2 separate regions of the Homo sapiens genome follow, and region 1 is linked to region 2. Evidence: fine-mapped expression QTL. A gene starts in region 2. The other region holds a variant in brackets. All regions are shown on one strand. Distances are between the middles of the regions. Region 1 overlaps ADAMTS19 (ADAM metallopeptidase with thrombospondin type 1 motif 19). Region 2 holds the start of ADAMTS19 (ADAM metallopeptidase with thrombospondin type 1 motif 19).

The links. PIP is the estimated chance that this variant, and not a neighbour inherited with it, causes the effect.
Region 1: its variant is the best candidate, but not a certain one, in a credible set for the expression of ADAMTS19 in skeletal muscle (GTEx, PIP 0.53).

Annotation. Positions count from the first base shown.
Region 1 is chr5:129,478,765-129,484,150 of GRCh38, reverse strand. The region is part of intron 2 of ADAMTS19 (ADAM metallopeptidase with thrombospondin type 1 motif 19); the gene reads right to left. Among named protein-coding and RNA genes, the nearest start is that of ADAMTS19-AS1, 21 kb to the right of the region's middle. The variant G/C (reference allele first, on the strand shown) is at 2,795.
Region 2 is chr5:129,457,737-129,463,122 of GRCh38, reverse strand. ADAMTS19 (ADAM metallopeptidase with thrombospondin type 1 motif 19) reads right to left here and starts at 2,825. Exons shown (of 23, transcript NM_133638.6): 1 at 2,641-2,825; 2 at 1,366-2,021. The coding sequence starts at 2,731. It overlaps ADAMTS19-AS1 (ADAMTS19 antisense RNA 1), which reads left to right and starts at 2,434. Exons shown (of 2, transcript NR_125748.1): 1 at 2,434-2,698; 2 at 3,044-3,564. RefSeq lists an enhancer at 2,904-3,866.

The sequences.
Region 1 (5,386 bases), 21 kb before region 2:
ATAAAAAGGATGATGAGGATGTAATGCACAAAAGAAAAAATGTAAATTGTGGAAATAAACATTAAAAATTCACGAAGTATGTTTAAATTTAATAACTGTGTTAATATTCACTATGGATAAAGATATGAGGAAAAAGGCACTCTTAACTACAGTTAGTGAGAGTGTAACTTGGTCTAGCATTTTTAGAAGTTGATTTGGCAGAATATATAAAACTTTTAATAACGCAAGCCCTGTGTCTCCCCACCCCCCATTCAAAGACATCATTTTCAGGAATATCTCTTGCAGGCATGCTCACACAGGCATGCAAAGATCTATGTAATTAGTTGTATATTATGAAATTATTGTTATTTGCCTTAGTGTAAAAATGACACAAACCTAAAAGCCTAGCAATATGGCCACCTTTCTTCATGGCCACAACCATGCACAACTGCAGCAAGAGCTACCCATAATGTAATCCATATGAAGAGCATCTTACAGATTTTGGCTGTGCCTATGTCCACTTTCATGTAGTAGTATATCTGACACTAGTTGCCAGGCCCTTCTCCAAAATATTGGTTCTCAACTGGGTGTGATTGTGCCTCCTTCTTCACACACACACATACCAGGGAGAAATCTGGCAATGTCTGCATACATTCTGGGCTGTCACAACTGAGCATCTAGGGGTAGAGGTCATAGATGCTGTTAAATAGCCTACAATGCATGGGACAGCCCCCTACAACAATTATCCTGCCCCAAAATATTATTAGTACTTAGGTTGAGAAACCCAGCTCTGGAATAATTTATTTGCATTATTTCTTTAATCTCACCTATAACCATATGAGGTAGAAAATACTTTTCCTCATTTTAAATATGAAGCAACAGAGACTCAGAGAGATTAAATATCTTATCCAAAGTAACACAGCTAATAGGAGGCAGAGCTTCTTGCTCTTAAAAAGGAAGTTACATAGGAAGCCTAGATAAATTATTGTGTTCTCATATGATGGATTATTATATGGCTGTTTAAAAAAGTAGATGTATACAAATATCATGAAATGATCTCTAGGTCACAGAGAAGATATTTGTAGTGTATACAGCTAATAAAAGATTAGTATTCAAGCTGTATAAAGATCTCTTACAAGTCAATAAACAAGTAAAAAAGTTATGGAACACATATAATATGTAATCCCATTTATATTATATGAGCAAAATTTTGTATGTGAAAAGATTTTGTTATTTATGACCCTATAATACCAAAATATAATAAGAATGGAAGTATCCTAAAAGGATAATTTTGTATAAGTATTCATTTAGAAACTCTCAACACAAAGATAACTGAAGAAATATGTGACATGGGACTGAGCATATGGTGATACTGTGAACATAGAAATGTGAATAAGAAGTTGGTAATAACTAGGAGAATGGCAGGGATGGTCATGGAGTGATATCATGGGACATTATTGATAGCACATGAATCATGACAGGTCTTGCTTGTTATAAGTTCTGTTGTGATATAAACAAGTGCTTAAAACACTTCACTGAATTTTGCAAACATGTATGATAACTCATCTTTGTAGCTCATTAATTTGTATAATTTAGATAATTGATTTTAAATGATTTGATTTTAGATATTTTGACTTTAGCTAATTAATTTGGGAATTAAGAAACCTATTTTCTGGTAGTTCCCTTAATTTGGAGAAAAACAGGTCCAAAATATTGCACATGAAATATCTTCTATTATAAAATATATGGAACAGCAAAAATCCAAAGAGGAAGGTGGTAATTCAAACTGACTCCTTATAAGAGAATTTCATTGACTGGAAGGCCCTTTTTTCTTCTGTATACCTTGACAGATTTGAGATGGAAAGTTTGTTGGGTGAGAGAAGTGAAGAGGTGAATAATTATGCGTGATAGAGGGTGAAGAATTCAGAATATCTGGAAACAACACTGAAAGAAAAGGGGGAGAGCACAGATGGACAGGGAGAAAGCATGGGAGAAAATGAAGTACTAGAAGGCTGAGGTCTTCCAATATATTGTATTTTCAAACACCCTAGTTCTTCATCAAAATTTCCTATAATTCCTAAAAATGACTGGTCTGAAACTATTTTTTGGGAAAGCAGTGAAGTCCTTAAATGTTCTATGCTAGCTGATGCAGAGGAAGCAAAGGCAATGCATGCAGGTGCAGAGTGAGGGAAGGAGCTCAGAAAGGATGTCCATGCTTTTTAACTCCTTACCCCAAGCTTGGATAGAAATCTTGATTCAAGGCCTTAGACACTCGTGGGCTTCAAGGAATTTCCTGGAGATCTTAGGGCAAAAAGGCCTTCAAGTAATACCTGCACTCTATTTATACGTAGTGTGTATAAAGACCTCCATGAAAACACATCAAGCTGCTATCTGAAGTCACCTTTGGGGAGGGTTCGGGAACTGGGGATTCTCTTTCTATACTTACTTCAGTGTTGTTTTACTATTTTACAAAACAATCCTTTAATGTTTTGATTTAAAAGAACTGTCAGACTAGGTGAAATGTGGGCTAAACAAGCAAAGATCACCTGAGATCGCACCACTAAAATGCATTGTTAAGAAATGTAACAGTGTTACTACAACTATTATCAGACTATACCTGTACCTCCAGGTTCAAAAAGATAGGAAACTGTTAAGGACACTTGCTTTTATCCTGGGAGCAAGAGTGTTAATCAGAGGATGGTTAGGTAATCAAGGGTTGCTATGGTTTGGCTCTGTGTCTCCACCCAAATCTCATCTCAAATTGTAATCCCCAGGTGTCAAGGGAGGGGCCTGGTGGGAGGTGATTAGATCATGG[G/C]GGGTGGTTTCCCCCACGCTGTTCTAGTGATAGTGAAGGCGTTCTCACAAGATATGATAATTTAAAAGTGGCAGTTTTCCCTGCACTTGCACTCTCGCACTCTCTGTCTCTCTCTCCTGCCACCTTGTGAAGAAGGTGCCTGTTCCCCCTTCACCTTCTGCCATGATTGTAAGTTTCCTGAGGCCTCCCCAGCCATGCTGAACCGTGAGTCAATTAAACCTCTTTTGTTTATAAATTAACTAGTCTCAGGTAGTATCTTTATAGCAGTGTGAGAACAGACTAATACAGGGGTAAAAGGCTGCACGTTGCTTTTCGTTTGTTTTGGCAAACATATACAGTCATGTAACAACCACTACAATTATTATATAAAATATTTTTATCACCCCTAGAGTTCCTGGTGCACTTTTATAATGAATTATTTTTCCTCATTACTTGGTTTTTGTCAATCACTGATCCACAGTTTTGTCCTTCCTTCTTAGAATCTCATACAAATAGAATAAAATATTATGTAATTTTTGGTGTTTAGCTTCCATCATTCATCCATTTTGCGGAATATATGAGTATTTTTGCTGAGTAGTACTCTACTGTAGGACAATAACACATTATTGTTTATTTTCCAGTTTGAGGCTGTTATGAAAAAATCTGCTGTGAATCTTTGAGAACTTTTATGTGGATATTCACCTTTATTTCTTTCTTAATGACTAATAATATTATCCATCTTTTTCACGAACTTTTTTTCCATCTGGTATCTTCTTTAGTGAACAGACTGCTCAAGCATTTTGCCTATTTTTCATGTTGTCTGCCTTCTTATTAATGAAGATAGTTCTTTACATATTCTGGTAACAAATGCTTTATCAGATATATCTTTTGCAAATATTTTCTCCCACTTTTTGTATTATGTTTTTATATCAGTGTCATTTGAAAAAGAGATGATTTTAATACTTAAGATGTCCAAATTATGTAATGTATTTTTCTTTTAAGGTTGTAGCTTTGTATCCTACCTAAAATATTTTTGGCTTATGTCAAAGTAGTGAAGGTTTTCTTCTAATGATTTATAGTTTATTCAAATTAATGTTTGTGGCTGTTGTGAGGCAGCTGTCAAGATTCATTCTTCCTATATTGATGTCAAATTCTTCCAGCACCATATGTCAAGGACTAGAATTCCTCCATTGAATTACATCGGTAACTTTCTTGAAAATCAACTAGCCATATTTAAGTAGAACTATTTCTGGATTCCGTCTTATGTTCCATATGCCTCTTTGTTCCAATATCAGATTATTTGGATTTTAAAGCTTTAACATTATCACTTCAATAAGATCATGTAAGTTCTCCAACTTTGTTCTTGTCGGAATTGTTTTGGCTTTTCTAAGTTCTCTGGAATTCCATAACTATAAACATATTTGTCAATTTCTACCCAAAAAGCTTGTTTTTTTAAAAAATGAGTGTACCAAATCTATAAATCAATTCAGAAATAATTGACATCTTAAAATTGAGTTTTCTAATTCATGAGCTTTGTATGTATCTCCATTTATGTAGATATTCCTTAATCTCTGTCAATATTTTATAATATTCAAGCAATATTTTACAGTTTTTGGTATACAGGTGCAGGGCATATTTTGTTAAATTTATGTTTAAGTGTCTCATGTTTTTATAGTATTGTAAATGTGCTTATAAAATTTTAATTTATAATCGTTCATTAGTACTATAAAAAAACTCGTATTTGTACATGAAACTTGTATCCCGCCATCTTGCTAAACCTCGCACGTTTGTTTTAGCAGGATTGTCTCTATAGACCATCATGTTTTCTGTGAATAAAAAACAGCTTTGCTTCTTCCTTTACAATCTGAATACCTTTTATTTATTTTCTTGCCTTAGTGAGTTCCTTGCTTCTAGAAGTACTGATGATATTGGACTGCGCCAGGATTATTTTTTAGGAAATCTCCCTAACGTGATAATTTCTTACTTAAAAATTTTAAATATACCAACATCAGAAAGGAAACAGAAAGAGAAAGAGAAGATAGATTACATTACAAATCAGCAAATTTCTATGTTAAATTCTACTATTTCTACTCCTATACTTATTCCACATCAATTTCTACCCCATATCTTGGATCAAAGGATTAAAATGATGTGAATGTGTTATATATCTCTGATAAATAATACTGAAGCAACAAAGTATCTTCATGACATATACAAACATACACACCACACACACATACGGCTTTAAATTTCACCTCTAGGCCTCATCAGCTTCCCCTCTAGGGTGACATTTAATCTCCCTCAGCTTCAGCATCCTTATCTATAAAACTGAGTGACTACACGTACCTTAGTGGGTTTCTGTGAAAAATTTGCCATACCTTATGGCAATATGTATATGGCATATAGCAGTGTTGAATAAACAGTGGCTATTATATTCTGGTCCTCTTTGTTTTTAAAAATCAATGCAAATGAAAACTACAGCGCCTCCATTCATTGATTTTCCTCTTGTGATTTGATTTTTACTAAAGGTAGAGGTGGCCAGGTGCAGTGGTTCATGCCTATAATCCCAGTACTCTGGGAGATGATAAGGAGGATCACTTGAGCTCAGCAGTT
Region 2 (5,386 bases):
TGTTCAAACATCAGTTCCACATAAAACCTTTTAATAAAAGCTTCTCATGTAATTTTTCCATGCCAATTTTTTTCAATTATGCCTAAAAATGCCCGTATTTGAATATTCATCATTATGAGTACTGTCCAACAGTTTACATCATTTGACTATGGGATCTTGGGTCAGGGGAGGTGGTAGTTTTGGGTGGCTTTGATTGTGCTGATATTTTCTGCTATCCACTGCTGTTGGATTTTCTCCAAATGAGCAGTTTGCTTCCATGCAAGTTCTTGTGGATTTCTCAGTGGCTCACTATGAACAGCAAAATGAAGCCACAAATCACAAGTGCATTTTTGATATTTTATGAGTTTTGTCTTAAACCAATTAATAGTAAAGCCTATGGTGGTGGCAACAACCATAAAGGACATGGTGGTGTTGCACAACAACGTGAATGTACTTAATGCCACGTACCTGTACATCTAGAAACAGTTAAAATAGTAAATTTTATGTTATGCATATTTGACCCCCCCACACACACACACACACAAAGGTCAACTTATAGAAGCTTGTCCCAACCCCTGAATCGTGACAGAGGGAGAAAAATCAAATGATGTTCTACATTGACAGAGCAAATGGCTTTTACTTTCCATCCCAACAGGCCTTTTAACAAGGCTCTCCACCTTGCTCCTTTCCTCCAAAAAGTGGAAAGAAGAAAAGGAACTACTGTCAAATGAAATGTAAATCACAGAACCATAACCCTTTGAACACAGATCGGATTCTAATGTCACCCGTTACTCAACCTCCAGTCTCTCAGTTGAGTCCCTCCCAACTCCTTTCACAAGAACAGTGAACAGGTGTCCAGTATGACTCTGGATGTGTTTAAATTCTAGACAACTGTCAGAGTAATCCCCTATAGAACTGTTCTTTCAACTTTGAAGTAGGTTATGAAAAAGCTCTAAGATAACAGATGAGGAACTGAGAGTGCGGCGCAAACACGAAGGAGATTCATCAGTGAGCCGACTGGTTGTCTTTCGAGTTCCTAAAAGACATCACGTGGAGCGCTTAGTTTGGAAAACTCTGGAGAACAGAAAGAAGTTGAGCCATTGGGAAGAAGTTACGAAAAGGCAGAGTTTCACGCAGTTTTGAAAGACACATAACCATCTGGAAGGAGAAGGCCATTTATCCACCCAATTAAACTTCCGATTTACACAACTGCCCTGGAGATGTTCCATGGGAGGCAAACGATGTAGACACCTGGGGGTGCAGTCTAGGGCCAAGCTCAAAAGGAGCACACTGAAAGGGGAGAAGGTGCATGCAAATCATCCTGACCTATGGGCAAGGAGAGGAGCAGCAGGGGAAAATGGAGAGCTAGGGAAAGAAGGCGCTTACCAGGCCACCTCCACAGGTGCTGAAAGAAGCCAGCGAGCCAGGGTGCCGCAGCACAGCTCCGGTGTAGAAGCAGCCTGCGTCTGGTGGCGCGGGAGGTTGCGGGGCGGATGCTGCCCCCGTGGGGCCGGGGCCGGGATTTGGCCGCTGTTCCACTGCGAAGCGCGGCGCCAGGAAGCGGCCGTCTCTCCGGAGCAGCAGGTACAGGTCCCGAGAGAAGGCCGGGATCCGCAGCAACACTTCGTCGCCATCCGGCTCGGCATGCTGGGCCGGGGGCGGGGACGGGGGCGGCTGCGGGGGAGGCGGCGGCTGCCACGAGGCCGGGGCGCCCGGGGACAAGGCGGCAGCCCCGCTGGATCCCCGCGGCAGCTCCTGCGACTCGAGCTCCTCGTCCTCCTCACCCTCCGACGGCGGCGGGGGCCGGAGCCGGGACTCTGATCGGCCCTCCACGGGCTCCTCCAAAGGCACCGGAGCCACAGAGCGCACCTCGCGTGAGCTGCCGGCAGCCTGCGCCCGGGCGCTTCCGCCGCCCCCAACGCCGCGCACCCAGCCCGGGTCCGCGCTGCCCCCGCTGCCGCCAGCCGGGTCCACCGGCTCCCGGCGCCAGAGCGCAGGAAACACGACTTCCCACTCCTCGCGGTCGGGGGCGAACTGCAGCTCTGCGGGCGGGGCAGACAGAAGTGCGGGGCTTAAAGTGCCGCGGTTCCAGTAGCACAAACATTTCCAAGCTCACAGTCCATAGATACAGGGCGCTCGCGTTGAATGCAATGGAGACCACCCGTCTAGACCCTGAAACTCTGCAACCCCAGAAGCCTTGCGATCAGATTACAGACCCCAGCATTTTCAGAGTAAAAGTACGATTATATTAGGGGCGGGGGAGGGGGAATCAAAGTTTGGTGACCGCACTTCATTGTTGAAAAGAAAACCGATGCAAAGACTCCAGCACGAGTAAACGATTTCTGAAGTGTATGCTAGAGCAGAGCGTTGCTATCAACTTAGGTACGTTCTAATTTTCCTCCAGGTGCTGTAAACGTACCTTTGCAAATATTATTGCTCTAATTAGAAGGAAACTATTCCACATACGGTTAAAACGAGGCCGGCAGAAGTGTGCTTCATTTCCGAACTTGACCCCTTAACCTGCACCTCAAGCTCATTTTTATTGCTACCCACTGAGCCCTGCTCTCCACGCACCGGTTGCACCAGCCCTGCCGACCCGTACGTTCGCGGTCTCCGCTGGGATGGCTGGAAAGGAAGCGAGAAAGTCACGGAAGAACTTACCTGAAACGATCCCATTCGACAGGAACCCCAGCTGGTAAAGGAGGCAGCAGCAGCAGATGTGAGTCAGGCGCATCTCGCGGTTCTTCCCCATACTGCGCTCCCGCGGCCGCGGCTTCTCGCCCGGCGCACGCCTCCAGCGCGATCCACTCCGGGGCGCAGCGGCCTCCCCGGAGCGCTAGGAGGCCGGGCGGCGAATTTGCCCAGGCCCTTTGTCTGCCGGGGGAGGGGGTGTTGGGGTGGGGGGGTAGGCTGTGTGACTCCGGGAGGCCGCCGAAGCCCTGGCGGGGGTGGGGTGGGGTCGGGTTGGGGGAGGAGCGGGGGAGGCAGCCCCGCGGCCCCGCAGCCCTCGAGCTCCCTGGCGAATTAGGAGATGAGTCTATTTTCTGTGTTCTGGACGCTGCAGGAGTTTCCGAGGCCGAGCAGGCTAGTGCTGGAGCCCCACAAGACAGACCCACAGCCAGCCGAGAGCCGGGAGTGCTGCCTCTGGACAGGCAGAGGACTGCCCGGCGCGGGCAGGAGAGCTGTGGTGTCCGAGCCGAGGCTCGCCGCCTGCACCCGCGCGGAACGGGCGGAGGCTGGTGTCACAGTCTCAGCAACTTGGTGTGCCAAGCTCCGCACACTCCTCACGCTCCTTAGGACGCACCGCTGAAGGCTCTCACCCGCAGCGGCGCGGGAGGGAATGAGTAGGGAGATGGGAAGACACGACTAGAGAGGTGGGTTGTAGAGCAGAAAAGAATCAAGCACATCTGACCAGAAAAAGGGACCAAGGGGTGCCCGCCAAGCGTGACTTTGCGGGACAAAGGTCCCAGAACACCGTGCACGTGCTCAAACGCCGGTTGGGATGGGGTGGGGACCCAAAATCCCTCACCTGACTATTGATTGGCCACTCGGGAAGGCCTGATTTGCATCCATCCCCTGCCCCCGTGTGCAGGTAGAGGTGCCTCCCCCTTCCCATCCCACTCCTCAATCCAGCGCCTCTTTTTGTCAAATTCGCACATCACACAAGGCAAAAATTAGTGCAGACTTGACCACAAAACTGAGGCCTCATTTATCAAAGGCCTTTGATTTGTCTTCCCATCTTTTTCGGAATTTTCTAAGCCCGGAGATAATGTAATTCGTCATGGAATATGCTTTAAAGTTTCCCAGGACAGTAGGCACCCTTAGGTTTCAGAGCCTCTTTTCCTTCCTTGTCTTTCTAGCTCCCCATTCATCAGTACTATCAGTTTCTCTCCTTCCCCTACCCCACCCCATTACACACACACACACACACACACACACACACACACACACACGAGTCCTAAAAGGAGTAAGAGTAAGGGAATCAACATTAAACATTATATTCTAAAGATCTCAGACCAGGTGAGATTATTTTGTCTTCTGTACTTTTTACTTGTACATAAAAAAATATGTTTTTGCTGTTTCTGTCCTCTTTGGGGCAATTCAACCCCATATATTTTTTTTTCCTTTGTTGCAATTCTCTTCATGGTACCTACTCCCCTTTCCACAACTCTCCCTCAGCCACATCAAAGCGTTCACATCCGATTTAAGGATGATTGATCTGAACTGCCATTTGCATCCTCTGGACTAGGCCAGACACCTAGAAATGATAATTAATGCAAATCAGTTTTTTTTTTTTTTAATTCCAGAACTGAGGTTGGTTCACCACTTCCTTTGTTATTTTACCTTCTGTTCCTTGTGTCAAAGGTGACTACTATGCCTTTAAGGGAAGCAGACGATCTTATTTCAAAGGAAAGCCATTGTTTGAATTAGCTGAGTCCTATAATACTTTCTTTGAGTTGTCCAGAGTTTAGAAACAAAGGCAAAAACACTCAAGGTGACTTTGTCAAGAGTGATCTGCCTCTAAACGCTGTCTTATAAAATCTCTAATGCTGGAGTAACTAACATGTGGGTTTCCAGATGCTCAAGAAATATCTGGGTTACTTAGAAACCTAAATGCTTTTTTTCATGAGACTCAATTTTACAGATTTAAAGCTAGGCAAAAAATCAGAGGCAGTTTATTTTTTGAGTATAGCAAGCTATTTAGATTGAAAGCTAATTTCAATGAAACACCTCCAGTAGGAGATGAGTCTTAACACGTTTCTCACACATATTTTAACAACAACAACAAAAAGCAGAACTGAAGGAATAATGCATATTAAATTGTATATATTTATTAGAGTACATTCATGATTTTTTAAAACCAAATGAGTTGTATAACTAAGTTAAATATACTCAGAAGCACAGCTTACCAATGTAAGTTTGCATTGCTGCCTTTTTTTCCCACTAATATATAATCTTTACCAATCCTTCATGGTAAAGGTTAATATTGTTATGGAAAGATTTGTCTAATTCCCAGATAACTCTTCTCTTTTTTCCCTTTTGAAATACTGTTATAATTTATTTACATATTTTAGAGACATTTATAAGTCATTTGGGTTTTAATGACTTATGTACTTATTTCTCCTACTAGACTATCAATGTTTTTGAAAGGTAGGAATGATTTCTTTTATATATCACCCTGACTAATTCAAGGATTTACACTGAATAGGTTCAGAAATTATCAGGAAATTCTCTCCAAGGTGCTTTAGAAAGTGATAGAAATTGATTTGTCTATGGTATTTTGTTCCAATTTGAATTCCTTGATCAGGAGTTGCAACACTAACTCTGCTGGTGATTAGCAACTATCAACATGACTTATCTGGTTTACAGAAGGAACAGGCCTAAGAGAGAAATGTGTGGGGAATTT